Regions from separate parts of the Homo sapiens genome. Here region 1 is linked to region 2. Evidence: fine-mapped expression QTL. A gene starts in region 2. The other region holds a variant in brackets. All regions are shown on one strand. Distances are between the middles of the regions.

Region 1 (2,922 bases), 660 kb before region 2:
AGTTTTTAACTTCTTTGCCATTGGTTTGAATTTCCTCCTGTAGCTCGGAGTAGTTTGATCATCTGAAGCCTTCTTCTCTCAACTCGTTAAAGTCATTCTCCATCCAGCTTTGTTCCGTTGCTGGTGAGTAGATGCGTTCCTTTGGAGGAAGAGCGGTGCTCTACTTTTTAGAGTTTCCAGTTTTTCTGCTCTGTTTTTTCCCCATCTTTGTGGTTTTATCTACTTTTGTCTTTGATGATGGTGGCGTACAGATGGATTTTTGGTGTGGATGTCCTTTCTGTTTGTTAGTTTTCCTTCTAACAGACAGGACCCTCAGCTGCAGGTCTGTTGGAGTTTGCTAGAGGTGCACTCCAGATCCTGTTTGCCTGGGTATCAGCAGTGGTGGCTGCAGAGCAGCGGTGGCTGCAGAACAGCCGTGGCTGTAGAACAGTGGATATTGGTGATCTGCAAATGCTGCTGCCTGATCATTCCTCTGGAAGTTTTGTCTCAGAGGAGTACCCAGCCATGTGAGGTGTCAGTCTGCCCATACTGGGGGGTGCCTCCCAGTTAGGCTGCTTGGGGGTCAGGGAGCCACTTGAGGAGGCTGTCTGCCCATTCTCAGAACTCCAGCTGTGTGCTGGGAGAACCACTACTCTCTTCAAAGCTGTTAGACTGGGACATTTAAGTCTGCAGAGGTTACTGCTGTCTTTTTTTTTGTCTGTGCCCTGCCCCCAGAGGTTGAGCCTACAGAGGCAGGCAGGCCTCCTTGAGCTGTGGTGGGCTCCACCCAGTTTGAGCTACCAGGCTGCTTTGTTTACCTAATCAGGCCTGGGCAATGGCAGGCGCCCCTCCCCCAGGCTTGCTGCCACCTTGCAGTTTGATCTCAGACTGCTGTGCTAGCAATCAACAAGACTCCGTGGGCATAGGACCCTCCGAGCCATGTTCGGGATATAATCTCCTGGTGTGTCGTTTTTTAAGCCCGTTGGAAAAGCGCAGTATTAGGGTGGGAGTGACCCGATTTTCCAGGTGCCCTCTGTCATCCCTTTCTTTGACTAGGAAAGGGAACTCCCTGACCCCTTGCACTTCCTGAGTGAGGCAATGCCTTGCCCTGCTTCGGCTGGCGCTTGATGCGCTGCACCCACTGTCTTGCACCCACTGTCCGGCACTCCCTAGTGAGATGAACCCAGTACCTCAGATGGAAATGCAGAAATCACCCATCTTCTACGTGGCTTACACTGGAAGCTGTAGACCGGAGCTGTTCCTATTCGGCCATCTTGGCTCCACCCTCGAAAAAAAGTTTTAAATAACTACCTCAACACCTGATAACTGATAAAACAAGAAGAAGATAGAAAATGAAGAAGAATGTGGAAAATTTTAACATGATAAATTCTTGGCATAATTGATCATATTTAGAAAACAATTACCAAATGAATGTAGATTATATATTCTTTTCAAACACACAAATCACTTACAAAGATTCATCATATGTAACTGCAAAGAAATGCATAATTCTTAAAAGTTGGAATAAGCATATTTCCTAATATGTAACTAAATAGAGAATCAGTTAGAAAATGATAAATATTTTATAAGTTTC[G/A]AAATTCAAAAATGTCTGTGTAAAAACATATGAATTAAAGAAAGAGTTACAATCATGTTTTAACACATACAAAATAAAATATAAAAGTGATGGTGGCAGAAAAACTTAGAGAAAAATGCATAACTTCTGTACCAGTCAGGATTCAACCAGAGAGATGAACCATTGAATGTCATATGTTAATATTAAGAGATTTATTACAAAACATTGACCTTACAGAATGTTGGAAGCTTTTTAAGATGTCTGTAAGACACCTGATGTTAGAGCTTGTTATCCACAGAGCAGACAGTTGAGATGTAAAGGTGGATGAAGGGTCGAGAAGAATGAAAACAAGCTAGAATTCACAAACAAAGCCAAAACTCAAGAGACAATATTGAAACCCAGATTAGTTATTGCTGTCTCTGACATTGGTTGTATGAGTGTCCTGTAGAAACCAAGCCTCTTTTCAATGGAACTAAATACATACACCTGACTCCAGAGTCACAGACACTGAAGAAGTAACCAGAAGAAGGTGGAGCAATTGCAGGTGCAGACTCTGCCTTACATCAGAGGGGCAAGTCAGCAGGTCAATAGCCAAAAAAATCAGGAGATGAGCTACAAAATGAGCTGTTGCTTCATTCATGTACTCTGTTATTGTACACAATCCTCTTATAACCCACTTTAACTGGAAACATACAGGGAATTCTGGGAAATTTAGCCAAGTTGACATATTATAAAGCCATCACATAATCAGATGTATATATCAATAAAAAATAAATGTTGTAAATGAGAACACACGGACACAGGGAGGGGAACATCACACACCAGGGCCTGTTGGGGGCCAGGGGGCAAGGGGAGGGAGAATATTAAGACAAATACCTAATGCATGTGGGGCTTAAAACCTAGATGATGGGTTGATAGGTGCAGCAAACCACCATGGCACATGTATACCTATAACAAACCTGCATGTTATGCACATGTATCCCAGAACTTACAGTAAACTTTTAAAAAAAATATTGTAGATTGTTAATAGACTGGGGATCCCTTTGAATATATTAAAAAGAAACAGCATAATAGCAACAAAACAAGCCAAAAAAAACTATAAGAAAAATAATAATAAAATAGAAAACAAATAAAAATAGGAAGGATCAAGATCAAGCCAGAAACTTACCTTTGGAGAGTTTTTTTAAAAAATTGGCAAACCACTGGAGCAATATACAGAAAGAGAAAAAAAATCAAGAAAGAAGATTCAAGACCTAGCGTCACAAATGAAAATAAGAGCATTATCAAAATGCTGCAAAAGAGAATTTTAAGAGTAAATTTATGCTCCTGCATTTTAAAATTTAAATAAAAAGTCAAATTCTGAGAAAAAT
Region 2 (2,922 bases):
TGGGATTACAGGCACCCACCACCGCACCCCACTAATTTTTGTATTTTTAATAGAGACAGGGTTTCACCATGTTGGCCAGGCTGGTTTCAAACTCCTGACCTGAGGTGATCCACCCATCTCAGCCTCCCAAAGTGCTGGGATTACAGGCGTGAGCCACTGCGCCTGGCCATTTATCATTTCTTTGTGTTGGGAACATTCAATATCCCCCTTCCAGCTATTTGAAAATATGTAAAAATAATTGTTAACTTTAGTCATCCTATAATGGTATAGAACACTGGAACTTATTCCTCCTATTTAGCTGTAATTTAGTATCCTTTTATCAAATATATCCCTATCTCTCCCTTACCTCCTTCGTCTTCCCTCTCTTCCTCTTCCCAGCCTCTAGTCTCCTCTGTAGCACTTATTACTTCTATGAGATCAGCTCTTTTAGCTTCCACATGTGAGTGAGAACATGCACTGTTTACCGTTCTGTTCCTGGATTATTTCACTTAACATAACATGGATGGAACTGGAGAACTATATTCCTGGTCTTCATATGCCTCCCTGTCTTGGTCTTCTTATGGGGAAAGGCTGGACCAGATCCCTGGCTTTGTCCTCAGCCTCCAGGGGGTAATGAATTCCTTTGTTTTCCTTCTGTCTTAAAGTTAGCCAGATACTCACAGATAGGCCAGTGCTTAAATTTACACAGGCAATTGCTGATATCCTCCAGGAAATATTGGCTTTTACTGGTTCTCATATTTCTGCCACAGTTATCTCTGGTCACCTCCAGACATTCTTGGTCACCATATGCACCCCCTAACACACATAAAAAATGTCCAAACATCCGTTTTCAATGCTGTGAGTTAATGTTTCCACATGTTTTATAGGGGGCTTTGAAGGATAAGCCAGTGTATCTCCTTAATTCCACCTCTCTTTCCAAACTTCAAGGTGATCAGGCCTAATTTATCTCCACTCACCTGACTCCTTCTTATTGTCCGGATTGCTGGACCTCATAGCTCATTTTAACTTTCCCCTTTCTGAGCCTCCACTGACCTGCACCCCGCTGCTGTCACCACCATGAGAACACTGCCTTTGTTCACCCTTGTTCTTCAGGACAAGTAAACTCATCTCAGAGGCCTCAAGCTATTGGGCCCTGAACTGCTTCCCTATGTGACAGACTGCTTACACACCCATGTGCCCCCTTCCCACCACACCTGCACGTGTTCATGTGTGCACGTGCACACACTTCACACACTTTCAACCCAGCACTTCGCTGGCAGCCAGAGGCAGGTAAGGAGGAGAAAAAAGTGCTAACAGGTTTGTGATTCATTATGATTATTCTCGGAAACAGTCACTATGTCAAGAGGGCTGATCTTACAATGGCAGAACCACATCAGCCTATGACACACATGAAATCTCCCTATCCCGTCTCACGTCCTGCATGGCACAGCAAGTGGACAGAAACACCCTCTCAACCAAAGACAGTTCTTTGTCTTGGTTCTGACATTCCTCTCCTCTGCTTAAGTTTAATGACATTCTAGAGGCAGTAGTGAGGGTGGGATTCAGAGCCAGATTCAAAACTTATTTCTGCTAGGGGCCATCTGCCGCCACTCTGTCACACTCTCCTAAATGGCTGAACTCTATAATCGCTGCACCAGGAGTCTGAGAGGGGCCTTGGATCCCTGAGCTCCTGGCTGACCTGGCATCTGGCAGTGTGCGTGGCTCAGTGGCTGCTTTCTTATGTAACATCAGCCCCGCCCAACCTCGCTGTAAATCCTCTTTCCCAGCATTTGCAGGGTCACAAGAGTCTGGACTCTAGGTATTATTTAACTAAATGGTAGAAATCCTTTTGAACTCTCTGTGTAAATCACTTCTTTCTACTTACTTGCTGTGCTTCTCTGAGTGCCTCGTGGCCTCTTTATCACCACCTGTTGAAGGAAATGTTAGATCCAGATATGGATGGAAGGTAGGCTCAGTTGTTTTTTACTTTTATGAGAATATTGTGCAAATAAAATCTTCCTTGTTCTTACTAAATACTCAGGAATTTAATTTCACCAATTATGAAAGTGCTTACTTTGTAATCTGTTCTTAAACTGAATGGGAACAAATCCTATTGTGGTATGGAGTTACATTCTCTTCTTACCCGGTAAGCAATCAGTCTGTAGAAATGAATAGGACATATTTACCCTGATCAGTTTCTCTGATCTAATAACCCTGGGTCTATTTCTACTTCATACTGTGTATTAAATTTAAGACAAATAGCTGGAAAAATGTGTAAGGATAAGAAAATGTGGACAGTGATTCCAAATATTTCTCATAATTCCCCCATGCGCGCCTGTGGGCTGTGTTGTTTTTCTGCAGACCAGCTGATTAGGGATTCCCGAAGTTCCACAAGATCTTCTTTATGTTAATTGGTAACTAGGTAATTGCGTGTCTCATCAGGATTCCTACAAGTGAAGAGCAGTGCACTAATTCTGATGAGTAGAAAAGTTGGCCAGGAAAAAAATAGATGTTTGTTTTTATAAAAATATCCCTCATCTTGATATTGGTACATCCTGACTCATCAGAAAGTGATGCTTCTCAACGAAGCAAAGCAATCATTCTTTTGTAAAGTTCAAGTAATAATCTTCAGATGAAAACCAAAAAATGCTTATAAATTTGGTGAATAATCCTGAAGCACTTATGTTATTAAAAGTGTCTTTCTGATTAAGACTATCTCTGAAACAGAAAACTAAGATATCCTATTTTGTATCTGACATAACTCTAAATTCATCACTCCTTAAAGAAGTCTTCCTCATGACTGATCAGCTGAATCAAATAATTTTCCTTTTTTCTTTATTACATTTTAATTAATCAGCTGATAAGGTTTGGACACCCAGAAGAAGCAGAAAGCCAGTCACTTTGCAGTAATTCAATTTTCTTTATTGGGGTTGCAATGGTCAA

Alleles and levels. Positions count from the first base shown, and alleles are read on the strand shown. Sizes are in standard deviations (SD) of each study's normalised expression.
In carriers of allele G in region 1, the expression in CD8 T cells of the gene that starts at base 1,859 in region 2 tends to be lower than with A alone (large effect, 2.5 SD a copy in CEDAR).

Evidence for each region. PIP is the estimated chance that this variant, and not a neighbour inherited with it, causes the effect.
Region 1: its variant is fine-mapped to the expression of LINC02275 in CD8 T cells (CEDAR, PIP 0.95).

Annotation. Positions count from the first base shown.
Region 1 is chr4:170,637,571-170,640,492 of GRCh38, reverse strand. No RefSeq gene overlaps it. Among named protein-coding and RNA genes, the nearest start is that of LINC02382, 100 kb to the left of the region's middle. The variant G/A (reference allele first, on the strand shown) is at 1,574.
Region 2 is chr4:169,974,839-169,977,760 of GRCh38, reverse strand. LINC02275 (long intergenic non-protein coding RNA 2275) reads left to right here and starts at 1,859. Exons shown (of 5, transcript NR_037878.1): 1 at 1,859-1,945. RefSeq lists an enhancer at 1,112-1,855.